3 linked regions of the Homo sapiens genome follow. The protein of the gene in region 1 interacts with the protein of each later gene in a pairwise test. Each region holds a gene or a part of one and is shown on either strand. Other genes may lie near its edges. The genes, in order: MLLT11, LEF1 and TCF7.

Region 1 (9,548 bases):
TAAGAAAAGGAGTCAGTTTGTCGAAGAGCTTTTTTTTTTTTCTCAGATTCTAGCTTGCTCTACTGCCCTTTGCTTTTCCCCATTCAGATCACAATTACAGGAACAATCACCTAAACCACGGAAAATCTATTCTTCAGCAACTAAAAATTCTTTTAAGTTTTGGGAATACTGGTATAGGGTTATATAAAGCTGTTGGCAACTATCCATGTACAACACAAAAAGGGATCAGATTGGGAATTATGAGATCTGGATTCTATACAAACTGGCTGGAAGTCTTCCCAAGTCATTAATTTCTAAGATGTCTTCTAGTTTTAAAATTCTATGATTTTTTCCCCCCATGATTCTATTTTTTTTTTTTTTTTAAGATGGAGTCTCGCTCTGTTGCCCAGGCTGGAGTGCAGTGGTGCAATCTTGGCTCACTGCAACCTCCACCTCCCCAGTTCAAGCGATTCTCCTGCCTCAGCCTCCCGAGTAGCTGGGATTATAGGCGCCTGCCACCACACCTGGCTAATTTTTGTATTTTTAGTAAAGACGGGGTTTCACTATCTTGGCCAGGCTGGTCTCGAATTCCTGACCTTGTGATCCACCTGCCTCGGCCTCCCAAAGTGCTGAGATTACAGGCGTGTGCCACCGCGCCTGGCCCCATGATTCTATTTTTTAAAGAGCCTATAATGTGGCCTGCATTATACTAAGCTCATTCTGGAGAAGACTTGTCAGGTAGGATAGAGAAAAGAACCCAGCTAGCTGTGAAAATAACTGGTAACAGTAAGAATCCCTGTAGCCACAAGTCCATAACAGTATTGACTCCTAGGTATGCTTCTTAGAATCTCTATAGTCCCAGATTTAAGCAGTGGGTGGTTGGTTAATGGATACAACCATTTTTTGTAGCTCTCTTTCTGCACACGTCTCTGCAAAGTACTATGGAGATTATCAGAGTTGAGTATCATAGGATGATGACCTCACCTTTCCAACATGCTCCCCGACCCTGCTGCAATCCCGGCATCACCCTCCTTCTAAGCAGCTTCTCTGCTGAGTAATGCTCAGTTCCCAGGGTTTATTTTGGAACTTAAACTAAGAAAAAGAACAACTCAGAATTCACTTTCAACATTAAAAACATCCTAGCCTACCCACTCACCATTCCTGAAGCCCCCACACTCTCACACATCACTGTGTTCTAGATTAACACTTTCTTTTTCTGCCTTAGTACAGTCATTTCACATTATACTGGAGCATTTTGGAACCTATTTAAGGCCATTATTTAGGAGTCTCTGGCCTGGTGAGACCCAATAGGGTGTGTTGGAGAAAGGCCTTTTGAAACTTGGGGTTCTGTTTTTGGAGGTGATAGAATGTTCTTTCTGCTCCTTTGGGAACATTTCAACTAATGCTTCTTTTTTTAATTTTTATTTATTTATTATTATTATTATTGAGACGGAGTCTTGCTCTTTCGCCCAGGCTGGAGTGCAGTGGCGCTATCTCAGCTCACCGCAAGCTCCGCCTCCCAGGTTCGCGCCATTCTCCTGCCTCAGCCTCCCAAGTAGCTGGGACTACAGGCGCCCACCACCGCGCCCGGCTTAATATTTGTACTTTTAGTAGAGACGGGGTTTCACCGTGTTAGCCAGGATGGTCTCGATCTCCTGACCTCGTGATCCACCCGCCTCGGCCTCCCAAAGTGCTGGGATTACAGGCGTAAGCCACCACGCCCGACCACAACTAATGCTTCTTGACCCTTGGCTAGTAAGTAGCAGGGTGGAGGCTGTAGGCAGCTCTAATAGTCCTAAAATATCAGGCAGGGCTTGGGTAGAATGAGTAGAGAAAGTGATAGATCCATTAACGCATGGAAGAGTATCTGATTCTGTTAAAATACCTTCTTCCAATCTGAACTTTACTTTAAATCCAAATGGATTTCCAATCCATTTGCTCTCATTATCATCAGTATACTCGAGCACTGGGATCAGAGAAAAGAGATCCCTGTTACAGCATAGGAAAGTTATTTATTTATTTATTTATTATTACTTTTTTTGAGATGGAGTTTCGCTCTTGTTGCCCAGGCTGGAGTGCAATGGCGAGATCTCGGCTCACTGCAACCTCCACCTCCCAGGTTCAAGCAATTTTCCTGCCTCAGCCTCCCAAATAACTGGGATTACAGGCATGCGCCACCTCGCCTGGCTAATTTTGTATTTTTAATAGAGACAGGATTTCACCATGTTGGTTGGGCTGGTCTTGAACTCCTCACCTCCTGATCTGCCTGCCTCGGCCTCCCAAAGTGCTGGGATTATAGGCGTAAGCCACTGCACCTGGCTAGGAAAGTTCTTTTAGCACCTAGGTTTTGTTCTGAAGGAGAGGTAGGCTAGAGAGAAATGGATTGTTAAGGCTTACCTGTGGGCTAATATAAGGGAATGGCAAGGTATTAATTAAATAGTGAGGGAAAGTTAATCAGCAGCCTTGAATGGCTTTGTGTACAAAGCCCACCACTTGTGTACAGAGAAAGTAGATTGGTCTTTACCCTTGGGGAAACTCCTAGGTATGGGGACAGATTCTGGAAAAGAATGATTATTTGCAATTCAGTGGAACTGGTGAGGGAATGCTAATAGGAAAATCCAAGCTCTGACTGAGGCACGCATGGTGAGATGCCAGAGAGCTTCTGCTCCCCTCTACCACCACCTTGTCCTCCCCCTTTCCCCATGGTGGCAGCATGACACAGCAAGGCCCTGTTGAGTAGGCCTTGGATGCCCACAAAGGGTCTGGACAAAGGATGTTTGGGCGTGTCTGTGTGGCTCCGAGAGAGTGTATCTTTCTAATCTACATATTTGCTAATCATGTATCTCTAAGAACAGAGTGATAATTAGATATTGCCTTTGCCTAAAATACCTGGATAATTTAAAATGAAGGATAATGGGAAGCATTTATTGAATATATATTGTGGTACAAGGCACTGTCAACCCTTTAAGTAAATGATACCGTTTAAGATAATGATAGATGTAAAGATAGATGAAGTAGGGGTGGAGAGCATTTGTGGAGGGGAAGGGGAAGCTAGCCAAAAAAGGGGTCTTTTGCAAAATTTGGAGTATTTGATAATTAAATCCATACTATATTAAATCAAAAATTTCATTACTATTTACATTAGTGAATAGCACTTTAACTTCAATTTTCTGTGTAGTCTTATTTTATGTTCTTGACTTGATTTTAATGCCACATATGCTTGCATGCATGTGTTTCTTGAATGTATTTGGTACCCTGTGTACATGTCTCTGGGTCAATGACATAGAGGTTTTAGGCCTTCTGAGTTAATATTTCATAACATTTGCTTTAGCTTTTTAAATTGCAAGATAGCTCTGCCAAACCCTCAGGGACTATTTGAGCAGTTTTTTATTCATACTCTGGTTTTAAGACAAGGGGTCAATTTGTCAAAGAGCTTTTTGTTTTTCTCAGATTCTAGCTTGCTCTCTACTGCCCTTTGCTTTTCCCCATTCAGAAGGCAATAAGGCCATCCCTATACATAAAATACATTAACAGTGATCTGTAATCCCAAACTGATGGAGTTAGGTAAAACTCTACAGGGTGTTGGGGGAGATGCTGGAGGAAATAGAGTAGATGAAGCTGAGTAAAAGTTTAAGGAAGTCATCTGCAAGAGGTGAGTTTATAGTAGGATTTAGAAGGCAAGAAGGAAAATAGAAAGCAGAAAAGTCACGGAAGGTCTTTTCACACATACCATGAGCTATTAAACCAAAGTCAGGAGGAAGTCAAGTATTTTTAAGTATAATAGGAGTTTGGGCTAGGGGAACGGGGGTTCCTCTATAGACTTGGAGTTTTTTGTTTGTTTTGTTTTGTCTTTTTGTTTTTTGAGACAGGGTCTCACTCTATTCCCCAGGCTGGAGTGCAGCGGCACAATCTCAGCCCACTGGAACCTCTGCTTCCTAGGCTCAAGTGATTCTCCCACTCAGCCTCCCAAGTAGCTGGGACTACAGGCGTGCACCACCAGGCCCAGCTAATTTTTTGTATTTTTTGTAGACGGAGTTTTGCCATGTTGCCCAGGCAGGTCTGGAACTCCTAGTCTCAAGTCATCCGCCTGCCTTAGCCTCCCAAAGTGCTGGGAATACAGGTGTGAGCCACTGAGCTCTTGAATGGAGTCCTGAAATGTGGAAAGTCTTTTTTTTAAGACAGAATCTTGCTCTGTTGCCCAGGTTGGAAGGCTCACTGCAACCTCACCCTGCTGGATTCCAGCAATTCTCGTGCCTCAGCCTCCCTAGTAGCTGGGACCACAGGCACAAACCACCATGCCTGGCTAACATTTTGTATTTTTAGTAGAGGCAGGGTTTCCCCATGTTGGACAGGCTGGTCTCAAACTCCTGGCCTCAAGTGATCCACCCACTCTGCCTCCCAAACTTCTGAGATCACAGGCATGAGCCACCACACCTGGCTGAAATGCGGAAAGTATTTTAAGGTGGAGAATGGAGAGAGTTAAGCAAGACAGGAATGAGCATAACTGTAACAGAGGATATACCACTGCTGGGAAGAATGGGCTAGATTTTGGAAGGCCTTGAAAATCAGACCCAAGATCAATTTGATGCAATAGATGGTAAATAAGTCATTCCAAGATGGGAAGTTTAGAAAATAGTAGAAATTCGGCCGGGCGCGGTGGCTCACACCTGTAATCCCAGCACTTTGGGAGGCCGAAGCAGGCAGATCACGAGGTCAGGAGATCGAGACCATCCTGGCTAACATGGTGAAACCCCGTCTCTACTAAAAAATACAAAACATTGGCCGGGCGTGGTGGTGGGCACCTGTAGTCCCAGATACTCGGGAGGCTGAGGCAGGAGAATGGTGTGAGCCCAGGAGGTGGAGCTTGCAGTGAGCCAAGATCGTGCCACTGCACTCCAGCCTGGGCGACAGAGCAAGACTCCGTCTCATTGAGAGAAAAAAAAAAAAAAAGTAGAAATTCATAATAAAGGGTTTCTGAAGCTTGTCCAAGGGAACTTGGATTCTCTCCAGAGGCAATTGGGGATGGTGAGTTTCTTTTTTTTCCTCCCCAAATTCCTTTTTACTGGTGGGATTGGAGGATATACAATTTTCTTTCTTTAATAGAAAAAAAAAAAAAAAAGAAATTCCTTTTTACCAGTATGTGGAGTATCTAAGCAAGGAAAGGCCATGGGCCACAAAGAAGTTGCTGTAGCATGAAGACTGACAAGTGGTTTCTTTCTAGGAAGCTATGAGGGACCCTGTGAGTAGCCAGTACAGTTCCTTTCTTTTCTGGAGGATGCCCATCCCAGAACTGGATCTGTCGGAGCTGGAAGGCCTGGGTCTGTCAGATACAGCCACCTACAAGGTCAAAGACAGCAGCGTTGGCAAAATGATCGGGCAAGCAACTGCAGCAGACCAGGAGAAAAACCCTGAAGGTGATGGCCTCCTTGAGTACAGCACCTTCAACTTCTGGAGAGCTCCCATTGCCAGCATCCACTCCTTCGAACTGGACTTGCTCTAAGGCCAAGACTTCTCTCTCCCATCACCTTGCCCTCATTGTCTTCCCTCTCAAGCCCCTTCCTTTCCACTCCTTTCCCATTTTAATCTTGTTCTCTCCCTACTGTGTTGGTGGTGCTGATGAATCTGCCAGAGTTGAGTTCTATGTATTTATTTATCTATCTGTCTACTCCATTTCTCTCAAAAGCCCTCAAGTCACAAAGTAAATGGTTCAAGCAATGGAGTACTGGGTCACAGGGATTCCTCCTTTCCCCCCCAAATATTAACTCCAGAAACTAGGCCTGACTGGGGACACCTGAGAGTAGTATAGTAGTGCAAAATGGAAGACTGATTTTTGACTCTATTATAATCAGCTTCAGAGATTCCTTAAACCTTCCTAATTTCCTGCTCCAGGGCAGTAAACACAAATATTTCTTCAAGGGGTGATGAAAACCTCGGAAGTTTTAATTTGAGGTTATCTGCTACGAAACAGTATTTCTAAAAGGCTAAAGTGATAAGTCTCTTGCTTTTTTTTGATCCTGCTCTTATATTCTTTTTTTTCCTCAGAGAAATCAGGAGGGTAGTTAGAGGTATAAAACAGGAGGAAATATTATGGAAAATGAAAATAGGGAAAATAATTGAATCATTTTAGAAGTAGCTAATTTCTTTTCTCAAAAGAGTGTCCCTTCTTCACACCTACTCACTTTACAACTTTGCTCCTAACTGTGGGTTGAAAACTCTAGCTAAAGAAAGTTATCAAATCTTAACATGCATTCCTACTATTATGATAGTTTTTAAGGTTTCAATTCAATCTTCTGAACGGCATAAGTCCTATTTTAGCCTTACCTCCTGCATTTGCAATACGTAATACTGATCAGTGGGCACAGTTCTTCAGCTACATTGAGACCCTGAAATGAACAATTATATTCTGACTCGACATCTTGTCCCCAATCCTTCCAAAAATATTGATGGTGATTTGTGCTACCATTTACTCGTTTATTTAATAAAGACATTCAATCCCAGGACTGGAGTCTAATTTTCTCTCTTCACAAGAAAAGCCACAGAAATCTGAGAAATTAGCCTTGCTTTCACACTTAGCTTATACATCTTTTTTTTCTTTTTTATTTTTGAGACAGGGTCCCACTCTGTCACCCAGGCTGGAGTGCAGTGGCGGGGATCACCGCTCACTGCAACCTCCACCCACCAGGGTCAAGGGATCCTCCCACCTCAGGCTCCCAGGTAGCTGGGATTACAGGCGCCTGCCACCAGGCCTGGTTAATTTTTGTATTTTTCATAGAGACGGGGTTTCACCATGTTGGCCAGGCTGGTCTCTAACTCCTGACCTCAGGTGATCTGCCCGCCTTAGCCTCTCAAAGTGCTGAGATTACAGGCGTGAGCCACTGAGCCCGGCCTCATTTTATCTTTCTATAATAATATTCAACTTAGAGGAAGAATGATTTGAGTAGCATTTAGACATTAGATGGTGAACTTCGCATTGAACAGATAATGAAAGGGCAAAATCAACTTAAAATTAGAAAAGTAGTTAGGGAGACAGGTACAACCACTCTTCTGCTTGCCCACTGACTACCAACATTATATTTCAGGTAATAATTCTCCTAGGTGCCTAAGAAGATAAACGAATTCACTCAAATATGTTATCTGCTTAACTTCTGGTTTTTGTGTGCCTGCTATAGGAAAGCACTGAGCCAAACAGAATGTAAACGGGAATGAGACAAGACTCCAACTCTCAAAAGAGAAACTGTAAATACCAATATGGATAGGACAGAATTGGGCAGTGTACTATAAATAAGGATGACACTATACCCTAAATAAGGATGATCTAGAGAAGTCCCCAGGTGGGAGAAAAAAAGACAAATCCTCCCTCTAGGCCATGAAAAGCCCACATCTAAAGACGGTCCCAGTCTAACGAAGAATGGGGCCAGGAAGGATAAGTAGTGCGTCCTTTTCTATTTTTACTGAGTTTTGAAGGGCCCCTTCAGAGTCCTTCAGCCATGGCAATTGGTGGGTGGAGACAGGGATCAACTGTTTGGTAAATAAAGTGACTAAATGGATTTGCAAACTCATGCTCCATCCTCTTGCAGGCCTCCAAAAAGAAATGACTCAGGCCGGGCGCGGTGGCTCACGCCTGTAATCCCAGCACTTCGGGAGGCCGAGGCGGGCCAATCACTTGAGGTCAGGAGTTCGAGACCAGCCTGGCCAACATGGTAAAATAAAACCCCATCTCTACTAAAAATACAAAAATTAGCCCAGCGTGGTGGCGGACGCCTGTAATCCCAGCTGCTGGGGAGGCTGAGGCAGGACAATCACTTGAACCCGGGAGGCAGAGGTTGCAGCGAACCGAGGTCACGCCACTGCACTTCAGCCTGGGCGACGGACGAAGCGAGACTCCGTCTCAAAAAAAAAAGGCCGCGCGCGGTGGGTCACGCCTGTAATCCCAGCACTTTGGGAGGCCGAGGCGGGTGGATCACGATGTCAGGAGATCGAGACCATCCTAGCTAACACGGTGAAACCCCGTCTCCACTAAAAATACAAAAAAATCTCCGGGCGTGGTGGCGGGCGCCTGCAGTCCCAGCTACTCCGGAGGCTGAGGCAGGAGAATGGCGTGAGCCCGGGAGACGGAGCATGCAGCGAGCCGAGATCGAGCCACTGCACTCCAGCCTGGGCGACAGAGCGAGACTCCGTCTCAAAAAAAAAAAAGAAAGAAAGAAAAGAAATGACTCAGTTATTTGTTTCACTGTTCTCACTGACAGCTTGGCTCTGGGGTCCTTACATTCGGCCTGTAACTGGAAAAATGTGTCCATCAGGCACCAGAACCCAATGCACAAAGCCAGGAACGTCCCAAACAGCTGCAGCCGAGGTTGGGATAAGGAAACGAGGCTTTCCTGTCAAACTAAACCTGGCCGCCCCGGACCCCGAAGAAGCAGCCAAGAGTTAAGACGCAATCTGCATGACTGACGCACGCTCCGAGTCTCCCTCAGCAGTTCGCCAGGTTCTTGGCGCCAACACCAGACCTAGGATCCGTCCCCTGCTGGAACTATTCAGACGCGCAAGATACGTAACCAGCAGTCCTCCGCCCCGTTAAATAGTCCTGCCTAGCATGCCTCGGTGACGCACTTTTCCACCTCAGAAGTGCCTCAGCAGAAAGGCGATGAACCTCGGGGGTGCATCATCTTTCTGTTAGAATGGGAGCATGAGTTTTCTGATCATTTTCCCTTCACAGATTCCTCCGCCAGAAATCTTACTCGCGGCGCCTTCATTTCCGGGTCCGCCATTTTGTTGCCTCTGTTTCTCCACGAGGGGGGGTTAAAGGCCCCCAAAACATGCACACATGAAAAGGGCAAAAAGTAACCGTCCTTGACAGGGAGTCTTAACTAGAGAAGGAAACGGGACTAAACTGGCGGGCTCCGTGGAAGCGTGGCCGGCAGCGTCCCGGACGAGGAGGTGAGGAGGAAAGAAGAGATGTGTGGACTCCGGGGGGCGTCAGGGCTGGAAAGGAAAGTGCCGTGAGAAGTCACACCGCTTCCCAGCCCAGCCTCGGACTTCTGGGTGCAGACCTCGCGGCTCCCCGTCACTGAAGCGGGGGCAGCGGCGGGAGGGGGACGGGGAGGAAGGGGATGCTGTCGGGAGGAAGGGGAGGGGACTGGAAGGAGGTGAAGAAGGGGGTGGGTGTAAGACCTGGGGCTGGGGAGCTGGACCAAGGGAAGCCCAGGCCGCGGAGGTGACCACTAGGGGGCGGCGCGGAGCCGGGGCCGAGGCCTGTCGCCGAGGCTGAGTTTGGCCCCCTGCCCCAAATTGGTTCCCATCTTTCAGACAGACATTGGTGTGAGGAACTGTAGGGTTTATGATAGAGAGGGAAACGGCGACTCTCATTATCTGACCCAAATAATGACCTGAAAGATTACTAGTGAACTCGGTAATCTGAATGAGAGCAGTACGGGCCCCGCCTCTGCTTTTTTGCTCTTTTTTTTTTTTTTTTCAAAACTGAGTCTTGCTCTGTCACCCAGGCTGGAGTGCAGTGGCGCGATTTCGGCTCACTGCAACCTGCAGCTCACTGCAACCTCCGCTTCCCGGGT
Region 2 (9,900 bases), on another chromosome or scaffold:
GCAATGCCTCCTGCTCCCTGTCCAGTCCTCTGCTCAACTCCCCGCTCTTCACTTTGGTACAGATTAACTCCCAACTCCCCCCACCTCCACCCCCAGTCTTTGTTGTTGTTCTCTAGGATATTTTAAGGCTTTCATCTTCTCTATCTGAGATACTGGATGATTTATATCCCTAAAAGAGTTTATAGCAGAGTCCACAGTTCCTAGGCAGGTAATTCAAGATCATAATATTTAAAAAGTAATCATGAACCTAAAGTATAATTTTTAAATTATCTGAATAAAATCCAATGGCTGCCTTTTCTAAATAAGTAAGGACATGTAAGGATAGCACAGAAGAGTACTAAGTGTCTTGATTACTACAGTATTAGCTTCCTACAGATTGGCTCAGCTCAGCACAAACACTTAAGCAACAGCTTCAAAGAGGACAAGTTTTAAATGAACATTCCCTTAAAAAAAGAGAGAGAGAGAGAGAGCGCGCAACCTTTAGTCCCAGGACAGCAGCACCTACATAATGCTGAGCTCTACTTTTACCTGGGAATAAAACATATATGTTTTTCTGCTTGCTACAGACAGTGCTGGCATGTTTTCTCTTTAAATTCCAAGTCTTTTACCAAAATCAAAAGGAAATCAGCTTTATAAAATTCCAGTCATGTCTATGATACATAAATGAGGAACAAAAGGAGTCAAAAATGAAGTGTTTTGATTGCTCAAAAAAAAATTCAATCACATAAACCCAAATGGTTCTGTCTAAAGAACATTAAAAAAAAAAAACTCATCCGCTACAAAATTGATATTATAGCAAGTGCTTGTGAGTCTACAAATTCAAGTCCAGAGAGTCCCATTTGTGAGACCCTACCTCTGCTCTGTTAAATCACATAAGGGTCTCGGACCACAGGGAAGACTCGATCAAAATAATGAGGTTGATGAGAGCAAATCTAAGACCTGTATGGGAGTGGAAAAAATACTTCAAAAGCAAGATTTTTGCGGATTGGCTCAATGGTCTTTTTTTTAGTGTGTGGTCTTTTTTTTTTAAGACTATCTTTTGGGTTGTTCTCATGTCTTTATCAATGAAGAAGAAACTACTAGGGTCATTTCAAAAAAACTATCTGAGTAAGAACCAGGCATGTAAATGCAATATTAGCTCTGCAAGGGTTACATGTAGTATGGCTTCCTGGCACACTTAAATAAGCAAACTGGCCATAAGGTATTTGATGGGGGAATGGCAAGCGCTTCCAATTATTCTGACTATGATCCTGTCCCAAATTGTAGCAATGCCATGAAGGAGGGATCAAACAGGAAACTTTGGGGGCTCTGAGGAATTTTCCCACACATTCTCCTGACATCTATATATACATTTGAGTTAGAATAATACACTTTCTAAAACTTATTCTCCACTTGAAGGGGAAAACTCAATGTGTTTAGCTTCAAAAAGTGCACAACTTAAAATAGAAAAGTGAAAATTATTTATAGGTTAAGTCAAATTCAATAGCTTCTTGCAATAAAGTGAAAAGATACTCTACCTTAAAAATCTTGCATGAGATATAAGCCTTAGTCTCCATCTATCCTTGAATATTATTTATGTGATTATTTTCAAAGGTATCCAACAATGTCACGTACAGTGGTACATTCAGAAGCTTACTGATTAGACAAGTCCAACTTAGTTCCTTAATTCCAGATGTGAACAATGACAAAATCAGATTTTAGCTGTTTATAAGCAAGTACAAATATGCAGGGTAGGTAAGACAAAGTTATAATAGGTATAATTCTGTTTAATAGAAACCAAAGTGTTGATTCCCTTAAGGTAAAAGTCACAACAGAACTAAGTTATACAAGGTAATTAGAAAAGAACTCATGGAACATTTTCATAGCAATTTCTACTTTAAAAAAATAAACATTTTAAAAGATAGCTGAAATGAGAACACCCATATCTTTCCTTTCCCACCTAAAAATTGACTCTTAGAAAGATCACAAAGAACCAAAAACAATGAAGTTTGCAGCGCTACACTGACCAGGTGTTATTGTGGTTTGATGTGACTGAGCTGCAACGTTTGCTGCAGCTTCCTGCACTGTGTTGCTTTTCCCTCCCCAAGCATCTGAAGAGAAATGAGATGTTTCTTTTCTAAGGTGTTAAACATTTGGGTTGCATGCGGGACAAATGGAAGATTGACGCCTAAGATGAATAACCACAGTGCATTAGGCCAGTGGGAACTTTCACTACATTAAAGCTGGCCAAGCTCACCATTCACACGGTGTTCAGGCACACAACTGCCAGAGCCAAACTAGGGATGTAAAGAACTATTTTTTTCTTTTAATACTTTACCATTGGCCTACAGGGATTTTCATAAATAAAGTTCAGAGAACGAAAGGTTTGGGAGTATGCTTTTAATAAACTCTCCAGGGTCCTGGCTCTAAAATATTTAACAGGCTTCTGCATCTTCTCTTCACTCTCTGTGAAGAAGACCAACTCAAGCCAAAGTTTACTATGCCCTAAGAACTCACGCTGACACCAAATATGTCATGATAGGTGCTTTCTTCTTAGACCCAATTTATCTGAACTAAGAATTCTTATTTAAAATTCTGTGAGAGACCCATTCATAAGATTTCTGGTATAGACACATTCACACCCCTAAGGATTCCAGTTCTAGAAGGATGTAATTTGCCAATTAAAATTCCCCTTGAGAAGAAAAAAAGCTGAGTAGGTGAAAGTGGTGCTCCTGAACAGGTAATACTGTATATTGGTCATAGGTAAAATCTGTTCCAGGATACACACAGTAGCATTTGTCTAAAAAATAAGCAAAAGCATATGCACTTTTTATAATTAGATTCCAGCAGAAACATTTCTCTGCATGCCAGTTGGCCATAGCTGGTATCCTCTGGATTGTCTGCAGTTAGATACAAACAGAAGACTGTTTAGGGAAGGAGTGGTCAGGTCCCTCCCCCACCCCAGGTGTTTTTCCAGTCCTAACACTTTTGGGAAGCAGATGCAGTAAACAAGCAATTGTTTGTAATGGAAATTCAAGAAGCAGGATGCCAAGGGGATGCTCCCATCCTAAGCCCAAACACAAATGGTCACCATGCTCCTGACACCCTAGATGAAAATCTATCACTGTGGATGTTAGTGACACAAACACTCAGCCCTGCTAAGGACAGAGTTAAAGAGCAAGAAGGCAGAAGTGTGGTTAGGGGTGAAGAAGAGAGGCTGTCTTCCGGTTAGTGTTTTTGATCTCCGACACATTAAAAACAGCTGTTAGGTATTAAAAACCAAAGATTGTAACTCACTTCGGTTGGACCCTAAAAAAAAAATTTACATAGTCTTGTGGTTACAGCTGAAAAGCTTCTGGAATTGTGCAAACTGCAGAATATCTCAAGAAAACATGCCTAAAATAAATACATCCTAATATTTAACAGAATAAAGCAAAGCAACAGATAACAGGGTAAGGTAACTGTTTCCTGACCACACCTCTTTCCTACACTTTACCCAGACCAACATTTATTCTGGCCACAAATCTTTCCTAAACAATGAATGACTGTTTGATTCACTGACCTCAAAATTTTAATACATACACTAACAATAAATACCTTCTATCAAAAGATATTTTCTATCAAAATTTCAAAATGACTAGTATACTGGTAGATTGGGAGAAAAGACTGTGGAAACACAAGGCAGAATGCTGGCATAAAGAGGAAGATCAGCTTAATTTTCAATATTCTTAGGGATTGCTTATAAATACCAATAAATTTTCATTATATTGATTTTTTAAAATTACCATTTTGAAAGGAGAAGTAGCTGATCTTTTTAAGAAATAAATTCCACAAATGCTGTATACTCACAGCTGAAAAACGTAAGGCTGTTTTGTGGCTATTTTCTATTGTCACCAACACTACTTTGATTTGGAAAGATTATTTGTTATTCTGAAAATGATTTAACAGGAATCTTCAAATATTCCTTATCTAAAACATATTCTCCTTCCCTTCTCCACCCCCTCCAAAAACAGCAAAAAAACCTGCCCAAATATTAAAGAGATATCTATATATTTGTATGTTTTGTTCAAAAATTTAAAGTCTCCTACAACTTTTAAAACTCAAGCATTTATTTGAGGGGCCTCTAAATATTAAACTATTTTTGCTTTTTTAAATTACTTTTTAAGTAGGAGATTCATCCTCATCACACAGACATCTTTATCATTAAATACTTGAAAAGCCTTAAAATAAAATATGAAATACCTATTTCTTACAGCAACCATCACAAGATCTCCCTCAAGATTAGAACCCCAAGATCTCCACTTTAACTACTATATAAAAATTAGAAAAAGCTTATTCCTTAGCTGAGAGATCAAATATCCTTTAGCAATTTATTGGAAAATAATTACAATAACATCTAAATTGCAGTGCTCAAAGTGATCATATTTGATATAAGTATCATTTCAACAACTGAAGATTATGTGTAATGATAACCACAAATACTCTTGTTGATAACTGTTGATTTTGAGCCACTATTCTCTGCTAGTGAATCTTCTCACTCCCAGATTTTGTTCACTAAGGTATTAACAACGTTACTCTTCCCAGATGTTTGTGACTGATTTTTTTCAGTTGGTAGAAACACTGGGCAAGTAAGTCAAACACTATAGGTTCCATTTTACAATCTGAGATTTGACCTCCAGGGCTGTCAGTGAGACTGGAACCCTAATCCCCGAGACCCATAGACATGTGTTTTTCATTGGGGGTTAGGTGATAAAGGGAGAGTGGGGCTGGAGAGAAGGTAAATATATTGATGGGTCAGTAAAAAGTCCGTCACCAACGCTGGTGGGCTAATTCTAAGAGAGAACTCCATCACCAGCACATTTTACATCTACATACTACACAAGTTACCATTTAGGTATTTTCTCACTTAAATGAGGTTTCCACTTCCTAAGAGAAATATCATCAAATAAACCTGAAATTCTTTATAATGTTATGCATTTGCATAATGCAGTTATAATACCACTGCATTTTTAGAATTTTAAAAGTTAACTAAACCACAAGATTAAAAAAAAAAGGAACAACTTTCATTAGGGTTATCTTTGAGTGATGCTTTCTCAACAATTGACAATAAAGCAAAAATAACTCATCCCCGCCAAACCGATCCTAAGGAAACATTGGCCGATACAATAAAACAAGACACCATTTGAAAAGCCAAAGTAACATAACAAACATTCAGCTCCAAATGAGCTAAAGTAGCTCTGATTCTAGAAAGCTTGTGGGCATTAAAAGCTATACAGTCCTTACTTAGCTGAAAAAGTAAATCAATTTTTTCCTCTCATCAGCATAGAATGCACAATACTCATAAAATCAGGGATTTGTTGATGTAACTTCACTTGATTTTATAACTTATGATCTGTTACATATTTATTTTAATCAATAAGCCAAAAGCTAAAATTTCAAAGGCAAGACATCAAAGGTAGCACTGTTTTAAGGTGGCCATTCCTCATAACAGCTCTTATTTAGCAACGACTAGTTATATATAATGAAAGCATTACCAATGAGTTTGGAAAAATAAACATTCTGCCAAAATACAAATCAATTTGCACTTCTGAACATAATTTGCAACATCAGCATGTTACTTACTGTTCTCGGGATGGGTGGAGAAAGAGATCCATTTGACATGTATGGGTCGTTATTCATATTTGGCATCATTATGTACCCGGAATAACTCGAGTAGGAGGGTCCCTTGTTGTAGAGGCCTCCATCTGGATGCTTTCCTGGGAAGATCCAAAGAACAATCAATGATGCACTGACTTCCCTTTTATATTACTGTATTTTTCATCTGAAAATCTAATAGTTCTAAGATAAATCAGACCCTACATAAAAGATTTGTTTACAAAATACTGTAACTGGATTATTATGCTCTATTTTAGATTGACAGTATTTATTCTCTTAAATAGCTTAGCAGCAAACCAGATGTTTTAAAAACATGTAGTTCAAACAGTTCTTCCACTACTGACTGATGTTTTTACAAAAATAAGTGTTATCCATCTAACTTAATTTGTTCTAATACTAACAAACTGGACTAAAATATACAGAACACACACAACTTTAAAAATGTAATATAAATATATTAGGCCATCTAGCTACACACAAACACAGAGATTTATACACTTGAAATTATGTTTTGCCTTGTAGACAAACTCAAAGATTCTACCTGTGCTTGCAGATTTCTAGAAAAATTTCTAGATTCTACTGAAAGAGTTGTTATCTAGTATATAGGCAACTATCTAAATTTATAAAGGATTAACTCTGGGAGGCTTAATTTTATGTGCTACACTTAGATCATTTTGCCAAAAAATTTCTGTTCGATATGTGTATTTCTTCTTGTTAATCTGTGTAACTATCTTGTAGCTGAGGAAGAAGCCTAATATATAATTCTCTTCCCTGCTCCTGGTTGACATATTGTATGTAAAAACACTTCATTTCAGTTAGGCCAATTGTTAAGTAATTAATGGAAAACAGATAGGCTGACAAGAAATCCCTAAGGTTACTTGATTCTTTTAAAGTCACAAAGAATTCTCCTTAAGTCTAAATACATATGTATGTAATTTTAAAGTTTTTAGCAAGAATCAGAAATAGGGAGAAAGGGTATCATTTCTGATATGCACATTCCTAATTATAAGTTTTATATTTTTACAAGTTAGATTCTGCTCTGCTCATTTACTGCCGGCCTTTTCACTGTAATAAGGAACAAGAAACAGCAATTTTGCAAGTGAAAATCCACTCAAAACTATTCTGGTTGGAAAATAAATCGATATATACTGTCGTTCTTCTTAATAATATATTAAAAATACTAAAGATCTAAGCTAATTAGGATTTAAGGTAAGATGAGGAAGAGAAAAACTCATTGTAGACATTCCCTCTTCCCAAAGAATCTGGAACCCACCTGAAATCCAAGGGTCCCTAACTCATTCAAAAACAGTTTTTAAATTATGTAATATATATTAGAGGTAAGCCATAAGTTTCCTGCGTTTTCTTTACCATTAAAATAGTGGGCATAGTCTGACCTAGTCCCAGTTTCTTGAACTCAAAAGTAACAAAACACACCTATTTATACAAATTGCACCCCTTATCTGCTAAAGTCAGAAGAAGTAGAATGGGTGTCTTACCGTCATCGGGGTGTTCTCTGGCCTTGTCGTGGTAGGGCTCCTGAGAGGTTTGTGCTTGTCTGGCCACCTAACATCATGAATCCCCACACCCAAAAGAAAGAAAATCACCTTAGAGTTTGTGACAATAATGGTACAAATGTGTGTGCGCTGGTAATTCAAAGGAAGAGGTTTAGGGGCAACTCTGTTTTATACTCTGAGAGACATACGCTAGTGTTTAGTACTGCATAATCCTTTTCTTGTCAACATGTATTTTTGAGTGATTATTATCCACCCGGGACCAAAAACGTATAAATAATAACAAAACCAATAAAAATATAGTTAAATTTGGGAATGATCCACATGCTGTTCTGACTGCTGTTTATTAAACCATATCAAGGCTCCTTGGATGCCTAATATTACAGGAGTAGGAGTTAATGGGGTTGATGGTTTCGATAGCCTCTTCAACCACTGTTCACTTCAATCAGATCTGATTAAAAGAAGGCTGAAATATCATTTTGCAACTGAAAATGGCATTTAAACATAAACAAGCCAACCACTCAGATGCGGTCTTAAGGCAACTGCCCTGAGCGCAGTTACAGCAGAAGCTCCACTCGAGCTTATAACCTACTATGGCTGGCTGAGTGCAGGCTTACAAAAGTAGAACGATTCTGTGGTTAAAGGGAGGAAAATTAGAGAGTCAGGTTATAGACATCTAAAAGGTAGCCCAGTTGATATCAGTTTTGGTAATCACCATCCACCCAGACAGCCTCAAACACGTGCAAATCAGTGGTATTACTCCTTCACCCTCAGGCCTCCTCATGCCCACTTAACACCCGAGTGCTCTCGGATTCGAACGCAGTGTCCTTCACCCGGACCAGAAAATTGTGGAGAATATGAAGTGGGTGGCAAAATTATTTATGGACTAAGGCAGGACTAGCAAAATGGGTAGAAAGAGAGGCTGCTCTACAAATAGGAGAGTTTGGCAAAAAGCCTGTGTTTTGGATGTTATTCGGTTCTCTGGACGTGTGTCCTCCCTTTGACCTCCTTTTCCCAGCACACAGTAGTCACAAATCTTTTACGCGGGGTTAGGTGCACCCTACCCCCGCCCCCAGCCCGCTCAAACTGGATTCAACGGGTAAAGAACACCATTCTGTTCTCTGAACGCAGGCCCCCAGCCTTTCAAAATTCGTACTCACCTCTGCCATTGGGATAGAGAAGGCAGATCTGAGGTGTTCTTAAACGCGCTGTTTAAAACCCAAAATGTCCCCGCCCTCAAAACCACACACTTTCTTTTTGGGGGTAGAAAGATGCCATTTAAGGAAAAAAAGGTATATCCTCCAAGTTTCTTTGGAGGGAAAAGGCGTTGGTTAAATCATTCGGGTGTCAGGACTTTTCTACCGGATTTCCTCCAGAGGGTTTCCCAGTTGTGGAACAAGGGTGACCAGTGGAGTGTCGGGTATCAGGGTCCATCCGCCCCCTAGACCAGCTCTGGACTAGGCTTCAAACAGCCCTCCAGCGCGGCCCTGCTCCGCGCTTTCTCTAGCCAGCACCCACGTGTCTCTATTTACTCTACTCAGGTTACCAGCTCTATCGCCCGCAGCGGGCCAGAAGACCCGATAAAGCGCCTTCCACCCTGCAGGACTAGTGCCCGGCTTCCGCTGCTTCTCCGCCTTTCTTCTGCGTAGATTTAAGGCCTGATCCGGTCCCAAACCCCAAATAAAAGTTGTGGGTTTGTTTCCAAGTGATGGCGGTTGGAGAAAACTAGAGTTGGGGGCGGTACAGCCAGGGTGTACCCTTGCGGTGGGTCGGCTCGGCGCACCCACAGCTCCCAGCTGCTAGCCCAGGCGCTGGGGCCGCAGGGACTGAACCCCGCACCGCCCCCGCAGCCCGGGTGCGCGCCCCATCGGCCGGCCTGCTCCCCGCGGCCCGGCTCACCGGTGGTAGGGACGGCCCCGCCTGCCCCAGCCCACGCCCGCCTCCCCTTCCTCCCGCCTGTGGCTCTGCTCGTCTCCACCTAAGCCTTTGGTGGTTTAACGCACTTTTGCAGAGACATCTACCAAGAGATAGCGTGTGCACTTTGTTTTCCGTCCCACGGAAGAATTTATCAGTAGCGTTATTCAGCCCTACTCGCTTTAAAGCACGGCACCCCTCAGCCCAACAAAAAGACCGAAGGCGAAACATTGTGGGTTCCTGCCCGCGAACCAACCGTTCAGCCACCGAACCCCCTAAACTGATCCATTTGGAATAAGTTACCCTGCCCCTCTACCTCCCATCCTACACACACACACACACACACACACACACACACACACACACACACTGCGGACCGGGGGCCCAGCTACGCACACACCCCAAAACAAACGAGGGATCTACTCGGGACCCTCAGCCGGGCGGCCGGGCGCCTTCGTTCCCTTCCTCCCTCTCTGAGTTTCCCAGGGACCCGCCACGCCTCTCGGAACTGGGGCAGCGGCCCGCTCACCTCGTGTCCGTTGCTGGCCGGGATGATTTCAGACTCGTTCACCAAGGAAGACTTGATGTCAGCTAAATCGCCTTCCTCTTCGGGATGACTGATCTCGGCGAAGATCTTTTCCTTCTGAGGATCGCCCTCGTCCTTGAAGGGGATCATCTCGTCCGTGGCGCAGAGTTCCGGGTCCCCCCCGCCGCCGCCACCTCCTCCGGAGAGTTGGGGCATCCCGGCGGCTCTGTAATCTCCGCTCCGCTGTGGGAGCACCCGCGCAACAGCAGGAAAGACAGAGGGGTAACTCAAGGGTGGGGGAGGAAAGGAGAGTTG
Region 3 (10,483 bases), on another chromosome or scaffold:
CTACTTTCAGGTCTCAGAGCAGAGCAGAGAAAACCAAACCAAAGTCCAGGCAACACAGTGAGACCCATTGCTACAGAAACAAAAACAAACTTAGCCGGGCATTGTAGTGCATACCTGTAGTCCCAGCTACTCAGAAGGCTGAGGTGGGAGGATGGCTTGAGCCCAGGAGTTTGAGGCTGCAGTGAGCCAAGATCACACCACTGCACTCCAGCCTGGGCAACAGAGTGAGACCTTGTCTCTAAAAAAACACAAACACAAACACAAAACAAAACAAAAAAACCCTGGTTACTGGTCTAGGCCAGTAACTGCCTGCAAGCCTACATCAATCAGGTGCCTGACAGTGTTCATGGAATAAACTTTGACCTAATTTTTTCTTCCTCAAACAAGCTTAAAAGAAGCCAACTACCAAAAAGAAGGAACCTTTTTGGAAGAAAAAAAAAAATGTGTCCCGTGGCAGTTGGCTGTGGGGTGGTCATTCAGCCTATTGCTCCGGGCAAGGTTCGAGCTGGCCTGTTTTGAGGTCTCTAACACAGTAGCCACATGGGCATCCTACCCACACATGGGCAGAGCAGGTCCCTGGTATAGGCTTTCCCTGCTCTTGAGGGAGGTGCAATGACTGGCCTCAAGCCTCTCAGCATAAGTGTTGACCACATAGGTGCCCTCAGAGAGGGCCGGGCAAAGGGCAAGGGGGCCTGGATCTAAGGCCTGTGGCAGGGCCTGAGCAGCAAGCTGTCTGTCCTTTAAAGATGGGCTTGGGAAAGTGACCAGCTTTGGAAAAATCTTCCAAAGGCAGTTTTTCCTCAGGGCCCTTGCAAGGGGCTCCTGACCCAAGAAAAGAAGATCATTCCTGGTTCCAGACACATGAACCTTGAATCCAATAATAAATATGCTTCTAAAATGTGGGGGTGGATTCACTTTGCTTGGTAAAACCCAACCACATTTTCAATGCCCACACGTCTTCAGGTAATGCAAGCAAATGCTCTGACTTGCTATGTGTTTATAACTGGCAGGTTTGCTTAAAAGAGGTTCTCCTACATTCACATACAGCTTCCTCACTGAGTGTCACTCCAACTTACACCTCTGCCTCTGTCCTTTTCTGCAGCCCCACAGAGCAGCTGAGGCCAGGGCACAGAGAGCCAGTGTCACAGCCCGTCCTTTTCCTCCTCCTGTGTGGCCAGAAGCCAGACAGTGGAGACTGTGGCTGCGCGGGGAGGAGGGCAAGGGGATTTGTACCTATAGGAGCAGGTGCGATACATAGAAATGTATCTGCTGTAGCTTGAGAAAGACTGAAAGGTGAAAAATAAATGACCCAGGCCAGTGGTGGTGTGCCTCCTCCACTGTCCTGTTAGAGCCTACTCTTGACCCATGTGGCCCAAAGGACACCAAATGGTCCCATCACCCATACCCTGACAGCAGAACGAAGCCCTCCCTGCTCCAGATACTCTCCCAGCACTTGCCCACACCATGAGATGACCTCCGAAAGGAAGCCTTTTCCCTGTGCTGCTGTGGAGCCCCGGGAGGCTGGAGTAGAGCCTTGGGCCTAGGCCTTTTGTCTAATCATGGTTCCACGGTGACCCCAGCCCCTATGCAAGTGGCACACCTGTTGGAAGTTTGGCACTGGTGGGTTATGTCAACCTAGTCCCAAATCTAAGGGTTTATTTACATCTTGTAGGGATCCAAAACGCATCTTTGTTAAGCATGGGCTCACACAGGGTGAGTTCTCTGGATGTAGTCACTACATCAGCGGGGGAATGCTGGGGGGCACACCCCCCATCTCACAGACTTGGAAGGAAGTGAACCACCTCATATACCAAGCCACCCCAGAGCAGAAAGTCGGATACAGAGACTACTCGAAAAACATACTCATTTTACAGATAAGGGCCCAAAGGGCAAGGAGCTCATTTCTAGAGCTAGCCATAGAATAGGCTTTCCAGCCTAGGCTTCTGGAAAGAAGCCTATATGTCTTCTCATTCCCACTGGCTTGGCATGCAGCAGCTCTCAGAACCACCCTCTTCACTCCTGGTCTGAAATAGCCTAGCACTTAACTCTCCTCCCTCTGGTGACCCCACTGTAGCCATGCGAGCCTCCAGCCTGCCAGCCCCACCTGCACTGGGCTTACATTCACACCCAACACTCACTTACCACAGTCCTCCAAACCTTCCACGTACCTTCACCCCAACTTGGACCAACTGAGGAGAGTGTGAAACACGAATAGGAATTTCTTTAAAAGCGCAGCTGTACTGCTCCAAAACACTCAGAATAGGCTCTTCACACTTTAGGTCATCTGTACCAATGGGCATGGTTTGTAAAGATCATGAAATCTTTTCAAAGCACTGGGACTTAAAAATATTTAATTCACGAATTAATTAAACTGGTCCCTTCTCAACATCACTGATTTGTAGCACCTTTGCCAACCCTTCCTGGTATGTCTGAGACCAAGCCAGTTTCCTAAGAACCCACTTTCCACACATGGTGTTCAGGGTCCTTCTTTGGCAACGGTACACTCACGCCCGTCAGGACACAGCCGACCGAACACAGCACGTTTCTCCTGCACAACCAGGGGACCTGAACAGATCAGCTTTCCTGCCCATTCCTCCAAGCGCCAAGGAGGCTCAGGGTTTCCTGGGCTAGTTAGAAAGTTAATTGCAAAGCTCTGAGCTCAGATCAGAGCAGCGAGGAGCAAGGGTGGTCTCGGCTCAAAAGTTCTCTAAGAAGACCCCACCCTGGCATCACCCAGCACCAGGACAGAGCCTGCACCTGCTTATGAGCAAGCTGGGAAGACAAAAGCCAAGAGGCAGAGGGCAGGGGGGTGCCCCAGGGCGGCCCCTCCTTCCTTCAGCAAAGTTCTCCTTTTGGTTCAGATCCCACCGGGTGTGTATGGGAGAAAAGACCAGCACAGGAGTCTCGTCTATTTTGTTCCAGGCAGAAGTCTCTTGCCGGTGCCTCACCTACCTGGTCAAGGAGGCTGCAAGCACAGGGCGGCACTGGCTGCGGGGTCCACTTACCAGCGGGGGCTGCGGCTGGGGGTGCTGCCCTGCTCCCGAGGGGGGTGGGTAATGCATGAGCAGATTGAAGGCGGAGTAGACGGTCTCTTTGTACATGCCGCTGGTGCACTCCGGGGCCTTCAGGCCTGGAAAAACCACAGCTGGGTCAGACACACCAGCCCTGGCAGCGGCTGGGACTGAAGGCTGTCTGCTCTTGAGAGAAAAAGAATTGCCAAGGGGTCCCCTGCAAGTTCCTGACTTGGGAAGGAACGGGCTGGGAGTATCGGCAGTGCCAAGTTTTAGGGGAAGGACCTGGAGGGCAGGCCTCCCCGAGGTGGCCCCTACTTGACCTCCCACCCCCCGCCCTCCAACCAAGAAACCTTGGCCAATTCTGTCTCCTGAAGGCGGCGGATTAGTCAGTCACCTGGGCAGGAGGGGAGGCGGGGATGGCGGGGGTCTGTTTACTCCTATAAAGGTCAGGGCACCGGAAGTGACTCGACCCGGCGGCGCCCGGGAAGCCCGCCCCCCACTCTCCACCCCTGGGTTCTGCCGCCTCCTGAGCTGCGGTGGGGGAGGCACCCGGCTCCCCGCGGTCCTTGGCGTCCCCGTCCCACCGAGGCCAGGGCCTGAGCGCGACGAAGGGAAGCCGGGCCGGGCAGAAACTCACCGTCCTCCAGGGGCTCTGGAAGTTTGTCCGGGAAGAGTCTCTGCGCAGCGTGTTCCCGCCCGAGAGCCTGGAGGGAGAACCGGAGGGGAGTGAGGGGCGGTGGGACCGCGGGGGTCGGGGCCGACGCCGGGGCAGGGACGCTCTGCGCGCTGGAGACCCCGAGGGCCGCGCGCAACTGGGGCGGCGCGGCGCGGCGACCGCGGGGGAGGAGCCGGCGCCGGCGGGGGCTCACCTCGGCCTCGCCGCGGGCCCCGGCGCCGGCCCCCGGGACCCCCGGGATCCCTGCGCCGCCGGCCGCGCCCTCGGACTCGTTCACGAGCGACGACTTGAGCTCGGCCAGGTCGCGCTCGGGACCGGCGGCGCTGTCGCGGCTCTTGTCGTCCTGCTCCTCGCCTTCATCCTGGAAGGCCAGCAGCTCGTCCGGCGCGCCGAGGTCGTCGCCGCCGCCCGCGCCGCCCCCGCCGGAGTCCAGCTGCGGCATGGTGCGCTCCGCCCGCCGGGGCGCGGGGCGCTGGGCGCCGGGAGTGCGGGGCGCGGAGCCGGCCCGGGGGGCGGCGAGCCCGGAGTCCGAACCTCCGAGCTCGGATCGCGGCGGGCGGAGCGCGGGCTGACTCCGCCTGGGCGGGCTGCAGGCGCGGGCTAGGGCGCGGGGCAGAGCGGCTCCGCGAGCTGGCGGGTCGGAACATCAAAGGCGCCGCCGGCCGAGTGCCGGGGGCGGGGCGGGCACTGGGGGCGGGCCGGGCCGGGGGCGGGACACAGGTCCGCCCCGCCTCTCCTCTCCCGGGAGAGGCCGGGACGCGCCCACTCGGCATAGCCTTAAAGGGCTCGCTCTTCCGGAGCGCACCCTGAGAGAGACGTCGGACAAGCCTGGGAATGATCACCCTTCTCCCGAAACGCAGAGACTCTAACGGGAACTCCTGACCCCGCTTACTCACCTACAACCAGATATTCCCCCTGCTTTCTGCGCCCAGGTTTCTCCTCCGGCTGTGGAGGGCGGGGGTCCCCTAGGCCCTTGGGACTTGGGCGTGGCTTACCATCGCAGCCGTGGTGTGAACTGTATCGTGCCCAGGCTCCAATGCGCCCTGTGCTTTGAACTGGGGGCTTCCTAGGGCTTGAGGCTGCTTGAGGCTGTGCTCGTACCCCAGGGAACCGGCAGCGTTGGAACTCCGCGGCGCTGTTGCGGCTCTTGCCCCATCCTCCATCCCTGTGCCAATCAGGGACTTCCTTCTAGGCCGCCTGCATACAGTGCGAACATAAGTATACCCCCCTTCGCACATTTATTGAGCTCCTGTTGCGTGCAGAGCTTATACATCACACATCTGTGACGGGCCCCTCAGTCAGGCGACGGCTCCGAGCCGCGAACACAGCCAAGAGCACCGGACCTCAGCCGATCCTCCAAGTCCCAGCCCCTATGACTCTCCCAACTCGGTTCCGTGACTAGAACCTGCAGCCCGGAGACTCGGAACTTTGGGCAGCCACGTGGGCGCGGGATTCCGACATGGGTCGCTCGTCCACAGCAACTCAACCCTAGAAGTCGCATTTAGGGAGCCCATGACTCTGAAGTTGACCCTGGCCTGACTAACCCTCTAACCCTCGCTCGATCCAGGCTGAAACATCTAGATTTGCGGAGCGCGGGAAAGTGCCTGGATTCCAGCGCATCTGTATGGCACCCGGGTCTGCGTCCACGCGGGCCTCCACGGCGCGCTTGGCCTGGCTCAGCCCCTGCATCTACAAAAGACGCCGGTCCTTTGGATCGCGATGCAGTCAACAGCAGCTCCCCTAGCAGGTTTCTGTGCTGGGTTCACTGTAGACGCTCACGCCTCTTCTGAGAGCAGTTGGGATAGAGGGTATTTGGGGGAGGGCCGGGTATTGGACGCCTCTCCCTCTGAGGGCCCCACAGGACCCCTGGCAGCGGTGCAAAGCCGGGCCGGAAGACAGCCGTGCCTCCCTCCGGGTCCAGGCCCAGCGTGGCTGGCTGTGGATCAAAGAGCTAGGCCATGCTTCCCTGTGTTCAGATCCTATCTGTGCCCGCCCAGCCGGGTGTCTCGGACACCAGCCCCCACACCCCCCTCCCCCGCCACCTCCGGGCTAGGGTGCCCACTTTTCCTCCTTTCCCCAGGCTGGGGCTGGGGGGTGGCATGGGCACGAGTGCTCAGCTTGGTGATGGAGATGAGGGGGACCCTGCCCATTAGGTCTCCCCAGCCTCTTCCCAGGGTGGGCTTGCCGCTTAGTCTCGCCTCATCTGCTCCGGATTGGCGGGGAAGGGGGGGCTCGGCCCTGCCCGGAGGGGAGAGGTACAGGGACGGGAGTTCAGAGCCTCCGCCACCTCAACTCCTGAGGTTATAGGTAGGGTCTGGCATAGGGTGAGCCTCCTCTGGGACAGCTGAAAGGGAATCCGGATCTGCCCAACCCAATGGCTTTAGGGGTCCTCATGTGTTTGTAGGGAACCCTGGTTCAGCAGGAACGTCCTCCAGAATAGCTGTCCCCAGACCCATGAGTTCCACCGACACAGATCAGTGGAGGCTGAAGTGTTCTCCAGTCCTTGGAGAAAGGAGAAAAGTCACAACAACAGTGAGGTTCTTTTTGTTTTGTTTTGTTTTCTCAATAAGGTTAAAACTTTCCAGCTTCGTATTAGCCTTTAATCAAGGATTATGCCCTTACTGCTTTATTGGTGTGAAAACATCCTTTCTTTACTAAAATGGTGGTGGGACAAGTGTTTTTTTTCATGTCTTTATTTGGTGAAAGAACATAAGGAACATTTTTTTCCCCATCTGTTAACTCCCCCACCCTCAAGTTTCTTTGGACATTTTATAGTCTGGGAACAACTGTCCTATGGGGTCATAGCTCCAACTCCCCACCCTGCTGGCTGGAACCAGAGGAGAGGGTGGGTGAGTAGGGAGAGTGGGACTGTGAGGAGGCGTGAGGGAGAGAAGGGCTGAGTCACAGGCATCCACAGCCACACTGAAATCAGTCTGAAGGCTTGCTAAGGGATCATCTACTGTGTACCTAGCCCTGGCTTGGGCTGTGGAGAGGGAAGGGCTAGAGGTGTCTGCCTTCCAGGAGCCATTGGCTGCTTTGAGAAGCTGAAGAGTTATTAGAGCCGATTTAGGTGCTAGAGTAGTCTATACAGGTAATGGACAGAAAGAGCTCAGATATGGTGAGATCAATGTGGACTAGAGTAGTCAGGGTGGCTTCCTGAAGGAGGTAGATTTCATGTGGGCCTGGATGGCTTAGGAGGGTTTGGAAAGCTGGAAAGGAACAAGAGCTCTGATTTGTTCCCCAGAAGTTGGTGCGGCCCCACAGGAGTCCCTGGTCTAGTCAGCACTGATTCCTTCACCATCGTCTACACAACGACCAACCTCATATACTGAGTGATTACTATGTGCCAGGCATCCTGTCAAGAGCTTCACACACATTATCTCATTTAATCATCACACCAACCCTGTGACATAGGGACTCGTATCCCCATTTGACTAATGAGGAAACTGAAGCTCAGAGAGATGAAGTCACCTAAGTTCTCACAGCTTGAAAATGAAGGTGTCAGAATTTGAAACCCAGGCAGTCTGACTCCTGAGCCCACATCCTAACTATCACACTCTAGTGTTCCATTATAAAATTCCAGAGGGAGTCCTTATTTGCCTTGTGGTCTTGGCAGACAAATGCTGACAAATAAGCTGTCACTAATATGGAGCCCTGACTTTCTGGGTGGCTCATGTTGCATGAAGGGGGCCATCAACAGGATTAGGGAATCATCTTGGTGGTCTGTATAGGGGGCCCAAGACCTTTGCTGGCAGAGAGGGCCTAGAATCTCTCCCTTGAACCAGACAGATCTCAGTGTGTACCATCTCTCTGCTGAGCCCACCCGAGGCCACCTGTTCTGGGAATTGGCTCAGATCACATACACAGATGATAGACACTGGGGTTCTTCCACAGGGTAGTGAGTGCAATCTGCTGTGGTTGCCCCCCTGGAGGTGACCGGGGAGTTTCAGGACCAGGACCAGCTGCAAGGAGGCCCCAGAGTCTTCTGGATTCATCCAGACCAGGCCAGGGCTGGTGATTTAATAAGGCTTCATCTTCACGCAAATGAGCTTGCACTAGTCAGATGCTGGAAACAGGACTAAGTCAGGACTCCCAAGGCTTGAGGGTTGTTGGAGCAGATGAGCTCCAGCTTTAGATTTGGGCAGTCTTAAGTTTCCATCTCTGCCGTGCCACTTACTAGCTGTGGGACCCCAGGCAGATTGCTGACCCTCTCTGAGCCTCAGTCTCCCCATAGGTTAAATGGATGTCATACGCAGGCCTGCCCTGCTCTGTTGGAGTGCAGTCGAGATGAACCACTGTACCCTAGTGAAGAGCTTAGAACAGCAGCCTGGTGCATTCCAAGTGTCTAATGGGTGCTCTTGAACGAGATATTTTTCGGAAGTTGTTAGGCTAATTGGCTCTTCATGTAACGTCATGTAAATCATCTGAATGTTCTCATGGCCTGAGCCCACTTAATCATGGCTAGAGCTGAAAATATACATTTCCTTTCCTTTTCTTTCAAGCTCCTTTAACATGAAAGGCCCACGTGAACTCTGACCTTTTCTGACAGGGAGACCCTTGAAATGTGGCATTTCCAGAAAACGTCTCAAAGGAGCCCCAGATGGATTTAGTAAATTACAGCAAGGAGAGGTTGTGAGCGGCGTCTCTTCCTGCTCACCAGCCCGCCTGGCATCCTGTTGGGGCTTGCCCAAAGCCGCCGGGAGGCTGGGCTGCTGGCTCTCGGCAGGAGCACTTCCCATGGAGCATCCTCTCAGGGCAAAACCCGGTTACAGGTCCTAGAGGTAGACTGTGGTTTGTTACTAGAAACACGGTTTGCTTTCTGGAAACTCTGTGTAGTTTCACTGTTTGTTGGGGCGTGTGTGTCCATGTGTGTGCATGTAGGTGGTTGTGACCTACAGAAAGGCAAGCACACACAATTGCTGGGATGCTGCTACTCTGCATCAGGTACCAGGCAGCTGCCCTTAAAATGAAGCAAGGGGGCTTTGGGGTCAGTTCTTTCTTCATAAGGAAGGAAGGACTCTTCTGTGGGTTCTCCCCTCCTGCTCCATCCCTCGGACTTCATACAATAACCAAGAATTGTTATTAAAATAAAGACTTAATAACAAAATTGGCAGTTCATATTTCCTGATGAAATCCTAAGGAAACTTGGCCAAATTGGCTTGAGAGGTGATGGGCAAATTATGAGAAGAGCTGCCCCAGAGCTTCACAGGGCTTGTTAGGACTATTCCCATGGGTTATTTTTCCCACATTGTGCCAGCCATTGTTCCTGATGAATGGGTTTGGGGTTCCCTCACCAGAAGGAAACATTAGGCTTGAATTTCCCCAGGAAGGAGTCTAGAGTCAGAGACACCAAGGTGGCGACAGCGAAGGCAAACGTGGAGTGGCCACTGTGTGCCAGGTCCTAGGCTGCCGGGTGTACCAGTTGTCCAAGGGGTCGGGAGTGCCAGCCTGTGTCCTAGTCCCTGACCCAACACTGGCTTGCCGAGTGAAGTCAAGTCAGTCCTCTGCCTTCTTTGGGCCCAAATTCACCTGGAAGCTGCAGATGCCTCTAAGTTCTTTTTTTTTTTTTTTTTTTTTTGAGATGGAGCCTTGCTTTTATTGCCTAGGCTGGAGGGCAGTGGCACGATCTCGGCTCACTGCAACCTCTGCCTCCCAGGTTCAAGCAATTCTCCTACCTCAGCCTACCCAGTAGCTGGGATTACAGGCACCTGCCACCACGCTCGGCTAATTTTTGTATTTTTAGTAGAGATGGGGTTTCACCATGTTGGCCATGCTGGTCTCGAACTCCTGACCTCAGCTGATTCAACCACCTTGGCCTCCCAAAGTGCTGGGATTACAAGCGTGAGCCACCGCACCTGGCCAGGTGTCTCTAAGTTCTAAGGATGCCATGAAGAGCTTATGGCCTTGAGACCAGAGGTGAGAGACAAGCGGCGTCACAAATGCAGCAGAAGGTGGAGCACACCAAGGCCTGGTGTTCATGTGGGGGTCACCTGCAGCTTCACAGAGGAATACGCCTGCACTAAATCCTATGTGGCCTGGGGAGACAGCCTCAGACACACTGAGAGAGGAATGTCTTATTGAGAAAGAACTATTCAATATCGCTTTTTAAGACAGGGCTATACAGGGCTTTGTTGCTTATCCCTAGGGCCTGGCACAGAACTGGCAACCTGCGGTGCTCAGAAGTTTTTGGATGGATGGCTGAATGGAAGGATGGATCGATCATCCATAGCAGTGATCACTTAGAATCCAGGAAGTAGTTAGCAGGCCCCGTACCTGCCGTCAGGCAACTCACCATCTTGTGGAAGACATCAGGCGCTAAAGAGGCTCTGGGAGCCAGGGGTTCAGAAACCCTCCTGGCTGTTTTATGCATGTCATGGCACACAACATGGCAGTTAGGGAGGGCTTCCTGGAGGAAGGAGGTCCTAGGTCAGCCTAGGAGAGAAGAGGGATTAAAGAGGATGTGGCCTTTTCCGGGTGGGGCAGTAAGCCACACTCTGGGTGATGGTGGACTTTGACCCCATAGGGTCCCTGGGACCTAGGTGAACTAGGCCCTGGGGGAGAGTTTGGCCATCCATTGAACCTTGCCTAGAATGGCACCTTTTCATGTCTCAGTTCCTGCAGTCCTCCAACCCCTGCCACCTAGGACAATTCCTCCAAGTATTCCCTCCCCAGGACACTGGCTCTCCCTGTCTGCCCTCTCTCCTAGAATAGACTACCTCCCAGTATATGACCCACTGCCTTGCATGGGGCTTCAAGACTTTCCTGGCTCAGTGCCCCGAGGAAAGCTCACCCT

What was found.
Region 2: the proteins of MLLT11 (region 1) and LEF1 interact in a two-hybrid assay, tested with the Homo sapiens proteins (one study listed by IntAct).
Region 3: the proteins of MLLT11 (region 1) and TCF7 interact in a two-hybrid assay, tested with the Homo sapiens proteins (one study listed by IntAct).

What each region holds. Positions count from the first base shown.
Region 1 is NC_000001.11:151,062,019-151,071,566, forward strand, and holds the end of MLLT11 (protein AF1q), read left to right. Parts: intron 1-5,200; 5' UTR 5,201-5,206; coding exon 5,207-5,479; 3' UTR 5,480-7,526; downstream 7,527-9,548. UniProt on the Homo sapiens protein: Cofactor for the transcription factor TCF7. Involved in regulation of lymphoid development by driving multipotent hematopoietic progenitor cells towards a T cell fate.
Region 2 is NC_000004.12:108,157,967-108,167,866, forward strand, and holds part of LEF1 (lymphoid enhancer-binding factor 1), read right to left. Parts: 5' UTR 9,802-9,900; coding exon 9,589-9,801; exon of another isoform or gene 9,559-9,588; intron 8,974-9,558; exon of another isoform or gene 8,692-8,973; intron 8,336-8,691; exon of another isoform or gene 8,315-8,335; coding exon of another isoform or gene 8,306-8,314; intron 7,198-8,305; coding exon 7,131-7,197; intron 5,736-7,130; coding exon 5,602-5,735; intron 1-5,601. UniProt on the Homo sapiens protein: Transcription factor that binds DNA in a sequence-specific manner. Participates in the Wnt signaling pathway. Activates transcription of target genes in the presence of CTNNB1 and EP300.
Region 3 is NC_000005.10:134,108,556-134,119,038, reverse strand, and holds the start of TCF7 (transcription factor 7), read right to left. Parts: upstream 4,359-10,483; 5' UTR 4,133-4,358; coding exon 3,884-4,132; intron 3,719-3,883; coding exon 3,652-3,718; intron 3,427-3,651; exon of another isoform or gene 3,131-3,426; coding exon 3,006-3,130; coding exon of another isoform or gene 2,953-3,005; intron 1-2,952. UniProt on the Homo sapiens protein: Transcriptional activator involved in T-cell lymphocyte differentiation. Necessary for the survival of CD4(+) CD8(+) immature thymocytes. Isoforms lacking the N-terminal CTNNB1 binding domain cannot fulfill this role.